Linked DNA regions of Homo sapiens. The protein of the gene in region 2 interacts with the protein of the main gene of each other region in a biochemical or structural test. Each region holds a gene or a part of one and is shown on either strand. Other genes may lie near its edges.

What was found. Proteins that work in one complex are often made in the same cells at the same time.
Region 1: the proteins of EIF2S1 (region 2) and ANXA1 interact in a test that uses a peptide from one of them, tested with the Homo sapiens proteins (one large-scale study listed by BioGRID).

What each region holds. Positions count from the first base shown.
Region 1 is NC_000009.12:73,154,865-73,158,364, forward strand, and holds part of ANXA1 (annexin A1), read left to right. Parts: intron 1-3,500. UniProt on the Homo sapiens protein: Plays important roles in the innate immune response as effector of glucocorticoid-mediated responses and regulator of the inflammatory process. Has anti-inflammatory activity.
Region 2 is NC_000014.9:67,363,328-67,366,827, forward strand, and holds part of EIF2S1 (eukaryotic translation initiation factor 2 subunit 1), read left to right. Parts: intron 1-1,439; 5' UTR 1,440-1,440; coding exon 1,441-1,681; intron 1,682-3,500. UniProt on the Homo sapiens protein: Member of the eIF2 complex that functions in the early steps of protein synthesis by forming a ternary complex with GTP and initiator tRNA. This complex binds to a 40S ribosomal subunit, followed by mRNA binding to form a 43S pre-initiation complex (43S PIC).

The DNA.
Region 1 (3,500 bases), on a different chromosome or scaffold from region 2:
GGCTATTATTCCAAGCAAGGGTTAGTCATTGCTGTTACTATCATTGCAAAACTCTGATAGTTCTAGATTGTAACCAGGAAGATACAATCAACCACAAAACTCAGCTTCCTCTGTCACAAATTCTAGATAGAGGTAGCCTTTCATGAGGCTGAGAGATGGAAAAATGAAGCGGGGGGACTCTCTTAGGACACATAAATATGCAAAAAAATTGCTACGCTTTAGAAAGCTATACATTCAAATCATAGATAAGCTGACATTAGTAGGCAGTGCATGTTCACAAAAAGACCATTAATTAGAAGAAATGTGAAATATTGTTAATTTCCTTATAGATTTGCCTATGTATAAATGGCCAATTTCACCGTCAATGAGCTCATGCTAAGTACTGAAATAAACTTAGTTTTAGAGCTTATCTTTGGTTAGTTGAAATCTGTATTGAGTTAGTTGAAATCTATAAGTTGATAGAACAGGCTCTTTAAAATCTATTGCAAGCTTTATACACTACAAACAAAAAGATAGAAAAAAGAAAACCTTTCATGAACTCATTGGCTTAGGCAGGTTTTCATGCAGAGTGTAGGTATTGAAGAGTCAGAACGGCTTAAGGATAGAATTTGGCCAATATATAAAAAAATATATATTTGGTATTTGTTAGTTGTATTATAATTATTCAGAAGTTCAGTTAATACGTGCAGTTGGCTTTGAGCCCTTAACCAGCTGTATGTGATAAAATCTGTTTCCTTTAGAGCAATTTCTTATATCCTGCCTTGATGCTCCTGTCTTTAATCTTTGCTAAGAGCTGGTGGTGAATTTGGCTGAATTCAGATTCCGTTTTTCTCTAATTGATTTCTTGAAGAAAATTCTCTATTGGTTGCTTTTCTTTCCTAGATTATGCTTTTAGTCTATCCAAATACTTCAGGCTAGAATGTAGGAACTTAGAAGATACAAATCACAAAGCTGTCTCCTCTAGGGATGCTCTCTCTTTCAAATAAGTGACTTAAACAACTTATTTTTGTTATCTTGTGTTATGTAATTAATATACCTTTTCCTGGGCTTTCTCTGGCTTTTTTTTTAAATGGACATTATTCAAGTATTTTTTAGAAGTAAAAAAAAAACAGTACAGTAAAGTTTTTATAACGTTTATTTTGAAGTTGTCAGAGACACCTTTAATATTAGACTGGACAATATCTTTAGTCTTTCTTTTGCTTTCTTTTGAAGTTTTTATTTGCTAATTGAAAAGAATGGAATAATAATAATAATAATAATAAATAAATAATAATAATAAATAATATAAATAAATAAATAAATAAATAAAATAAATAAATAATAAAAACATGTTTTTATAAGTGATGGAGTAGTACTTTGCCAAGTGATGAATTTTAACACTCATTTTGATGATTCTTCCTTATCAAAGCCTTGGATGAAATGATGAAAATGGAAATTTTGAGTGCCTGAAGCTGCTAGAATTGCTTTTAAAGTATTGGGTGTGCCAATTAAGAAGGTGGAATATGAAACTCCATGTGGCAACCGCAATTGCATGAAACTAGACTGTAATGGGAACTAAAACCTTGTGCAAAATTGCGGGTTGTTACTTTATCAGGAAGCAATTTTAAGTCTATCAATTATATTTAGGAAACAGGCTGCTTTAAATGAATGGAAAAAGTATTGGTTCTTCTCACAGATGACAGAATAGTAATAAGAGCAATCCCATGCGAATTAAGTGGGGATGATTTCTGCTTTGGATATTATTTTCTTCATGCATTCAGTGTTATTACTTGCAACTCCAGTTACTTTTTAGCAGGTGAAAATGGAAAGAGTTTGTCTGAACATGCTGTTGAGGAATCAGTTTATGGAATCAGTTTATGCCTCATGAGTCATTTATCTTCATATCAAGAATTTAAAACTGCCAAGATTGTCCTCCCAACCTCTCTCACAAACATTCATGAGAGTAGTCTCTAGAGGGGTGAAACAGAATGGTGTAGATAGACAGATCAGTGTAGACCTTGAGCAAGGCCTCTGAAAAACATCCCCAGACTAAAAGGATCTGTGATGGCATTTTGTGTGTGTGTGGCCAAAACAGAGAACACATTAATTTTCAATATACTTAAGATCTTAAAAATATATGTCTCATTAAATAAAAATATTGCCAAGTCATGATAGCAATTCAAGAAATTTCCTTTAAGATAGAGTTTGCCAAAAGAACATGCATGTTACAATTGCACCTCTAGGCTTCCTGCTACAACAAAAAAATCCAGTATAAAATAATTCTTTTCTGGGTTTTTTGTGTTGGGTGGGAAAATATGTAGGACTACTATTTAGACAGCTCAAATAGGAAGAAATGTGAAGATAGCAATTACTTCAATGCTGAGTACTTTTATATCAAGAAATAGAAAAGGAAACTAAATTATTCAGGGAGAAATATCACCTGGATATCTTTTTACAATTAAAATTTTAAATCTGAATTCACTTGTACAGATTGGCACAAGTTATTTTACCTTATAAATGTAATCATTGGCTGGGAGTGGTAGCTCACACCTGTAATTCCAGCACTTTGGGAGGCCGAGGCGGGCAGATCACTTGGGGTCATGAGTTCAAAATCAGCCTAGCCAACATGGTGAAAACCTGTCTCTACTAAAAATACAAAAATTAGCCGGGCGTGGTGGCTGGTGCCTGTAATCCCAGCTACTCAGGAGGCTGAGGCAGGAGAATTGCTTGAACCCAGGAGACGGAGGTTGCAGTGAGTCGAGATTTCACCACTGCACTCCAGCCTGGGCGACAGAGAAAGACTCCATCTCAAAAAAAAAAAAAAAAAAAAAAGCAATCATTAAGCTTTTCATCTAGCCATTACTTTTGTACAGGCTCTCATTAATTCCACATAGATGGTCTAATGGTCTACTAAATAGTATTCTAATCCTCCATCTTGTCTATCTCTTAGCCATTCTCCATGATAAAGGATGAATGGTCTTTCGGAAACATAAATGAAACCATGCTGCTTTAAAAAAACAAACAAACAAAAAGAAACCCATTAATGTTTTCCCAAAGCTTTGTGGACACATTGAAGCTTCTTGTTTCAGCTTCTGCCAACATTTCTCGCTCCAGCAAACTTTCTTCTGCTTCCCAAATATGACAAGCTTCTTCTTTAACTTTTCTGCCAGGTTAATCTTGACTCATTTCAAGAGAGGCTTGGGTCAGCCAGGGCCTACTCTAAGAAGTTTCTTTAGCCCTTATGTTTTCCTATGGAGAGCACACACTAGCTTTAAGTCCTGAGGGTACTTAAGATGATATTTCAATGTTTTTGTACTCTTAGTGCTTGGCATATGGTGGGTGGTCTACAAATTTAGAACAATGTAGTGAACCACAAACTCCTCTCTTCAGCCTGTGTGCTTACTTGTAGTAGTTGTCTGATCTCTAAAATTTAGAACTGAATATGCCAAGAAAGAGTTCAATTTCAGAGAGGAGGGTATGGTTTCATTTTAAGTATAAAAGCTTCCTTTAAAAAAAATTAC
Region 2 (3,500 bases):
TATTCCCTACAAAGAAATACATCTCTGCTACTGTCATTAATATGCTGCTCTTTGTTGTCAAACAGATGAGTACTAATAGTTTGCACTTATTGGTGTTATGTACTCTGGCACTGAATATATATTAATGTTGCTTTTTAAGTAAAATGTTTCTAATTATAATATATTTATGAATAGTTTTGAGAGAATATAGTCTTACTGATAAGAGGACAGACTCTGGATCCAGACTTCATGGATTCAAATCCTGACTCATCACCTGTTAGCAGTATGTGAAAGAACAAGTAACTTAACCTGTGCTTCAGTTTTTTAATCTATAAAATGGGGAGAACTAGGGAGAAAGTTGTACCACAAGGAGATAGGCAATGGCCAGATCATATAGGATTCTGTAGGTAGTGGAAAGATACATAAGTCAGTGGGAAGCCACTGAGAAGATATAGGCAGGTGCCAATTAATAAGTTATTATATGAATTTTCACAAGGTTTTCTTAGGCCTTTAAGTTCTGTTACTACCTACGTTTTGAGCAGTGACAACAGTGAAGGTTAACAGAAAAACATGAAAATCATCAGCCATGATTAGTTTGAGAGCTTCCTTTTTTAAATATGCTTCTACCCAGGCTATGATTTCAGGCTTGTGGATCATAAAAGGAGTAGTGCTGAAAGTAGGTTGGGTGGATCAAAGGGAATAATTGTAAATATCTTTAATGCTTGGAGGTTAAGAGAAACTTGAACTTTGTAGTAATGGAGATTAAAGCTATTCTCAAGATTAGGTATACCTATTCAATAAAAGAAAGGAATATTTGGGAGTATTGGGGATAAGAGAAGCTAGACATTGTGAATTCAAGGAAAAAGAATTATGAGAGGAGGATGCATTTTAGTTTATTTTGTGATTAAAATTTTTTTAGTTTTTGTTGTTTTGACATGTGACACTGTAATTTTGGCTATAATAAATGACAGAATGTATCATTTGGTATATTGGTTAGGGTTTAGGTAGAAAATTTTTTCCTTTATATAGTGAGTGGTAGCGTATACAATGTTTGCTCACTTCGGCAAAGAGTAGCTTTAGTTTTCTGATTAGTTATAATAGTGATGCTTCCCATCATTTGATATGCCTTAAAGTAGTATTTTACTCTTGAGGTATTCCTTTAATCCTTAGGTCTTGGAGTACTTTATAGATGGTCATTATTTTTTATGATTCCTCTGAAACTAAAGGCAGAGAATCACCCAAGCATTACAAAAATGTTGAGCAAAATAAAAATTAAAGCTTGGTTCCTGAACATTATCTGTTTTCTGGTACCACTTAAGAAGTTTCAAAGGATGAGAAGACTAAGACTAATAACTATTTTTTTCTTCATCTTTTCTTTCAGTGGCAGGATGTGGAAATTGATTTTTTTTTTATTTTCACCTTAACTGAATACTTACTTAATTCTTTTGTTTAAATTGCAGAATGCCGGGTCTAAGTTGTAGATTTTATCAACACAAATTTCCTGAGGTGGAAGATGTAGTGATGGTGAATGTCAGATCCATTGCTGAAATGGGGGCTTATGTCAGCTTGCTGGAATACAACAACATTGAAGGCATGATTCTTCTTAGTGAATTATCCAGAAGGCGTATCCGTTCTATCAACAAACTCATCCGAATTGGCAGGAATGAGTGTGTGGTTGTCATTAGGGTGGACAAAGAAAAAGGTAAGTGAGAAAAATATCTGTAATATAAATTTCAGATTTAAAATGGTTTATTTAAAAATACATTTTTTGTAAATTGCAAGCTGCAGCTTAAAAAAAAAAGCTCCTTTTATACTTAAACCTTTTACATACAAAGTTGTTAGAAAAGGATGCCAATTAGCTATCTAAGCAAGATCTCTTAATAGTAGTTTAATTAGTACATCCTAGGATTTTATGGATCAGATAACTTGAATTTTATTTCTAGTGTTTATCAGGATCTTGATAATTGACTCATGGTAACCAAACTTAGAGACAGGTAAGTCAGAGTACTAGTTCATTTACATTGGTAGGCCTGAATATGTTGGATGCCTTTTTCTTGATTTAAAGCTAAAATAGTAATGAGATCACTGGGTAAGCATGAAAATGGGGCAAATGGATTTTAGGGATCTTTTATATAAGCTTTGAAAAAGCAATATACTATGCGTGTATATACACACCTGAAATCCAACATTGTATATCTTGCTGGTAATTAGAATGTTTGCATCTACCAGATCTCGTGGTATCTTTCAGACAGTTTTGGATGAGCATTCATTTTTTACTTATTGGATGCCTTTTCTGGGCCCCATGTAAATCATCACCTTTGTGAATACTCTTTTTTTAAACATGGTGTACAATACCATTACGTAGGTTTTAGTTTCAGCCATCTTACTATAATTTGTTAGGTGTTAGTTTTAGGTCATTAGTTACCATCATGTCCGAAAGGCTTCATATCAGTCACCTTGATTCAACTTACCCTTCTGAATCTCCTCAGCCGTCTGGTTTACTGATACTTTCTCACTTCTGCAAGTGATTAATTTTATACATACTGACATTTTAATTTTTTTTATTATAGCCTTAGATGATACATAGATTTTGAGGATGTCTTATGCCTTAGGTAGTGACTGCTACTTAGCACATGGATTGTTTTAAATGTTTTGCTATGACTTAGCTATAGCCCCGCCCAAAATTATTAAACTACTTTGAGACTATTTGTTAAACTTAGGTAAGTCTTCACATCACTGTCCTAGTAGTACCTAAAGTAGTGTCTAATCTTGTACTTTTTTTTTTTTTTTTTAAGAATTGGGGTCTTGCTCTGTCACCCAGGCTGCAGTGTAGTGGTATGATCATAGGTCGCTGCAGCCTTGAACTCCTGTGTTCAAGTGTTCCTCAAGCAGTCCTCCCAAGTAGCTGGAACTACAGGCATGTGCCACCCTGCCCAGCTAACTTTCTTTGTAGAGATGGGGTCTTGCTGTGTTGCCCAGGCTAGTCTTGAACTGGGCTCAAGCGATTCTCCTGCCTTGGCCTCACAAAGTACTGGGATTACAGGTGTGAGCCACTGTGCTCAGCCTTCTTTTTCTATTGTATAAAATATACACAAAAGGAGGAATCAAATATGTTTTTAGTTGCAATCAGAAAAAATATGGAATGGCATACTTGCTTACGTACAGTAGATACATGTAAAGATATTTCCATAGCATTTGTTTGTATGGCATTAACTAAAACCAGGAAATGACCAAAATGGGGACTGGTTAAATAAATCAGTACAAATGCGTGCAATGCAATTTTATGCAGAATGAGATCTGAATATTTTGATATGGAAGATCTCCAGGATAGGATGAGAAAAAGCAAAGTGCAAAAGAGCCTGTAGAGAGGATTCATTTTGATACTAGAGAATTATGTCCTCCTAGACAAGCCTTTCAACGTAAATGCCATAAACCCTGAACAAGTATGAAAAATAACTACCTAAAGACAATGAGAAGCAGCCAAAAGCAGGCCAAAATTGAAAATTTGAAGGTGAGTCGAC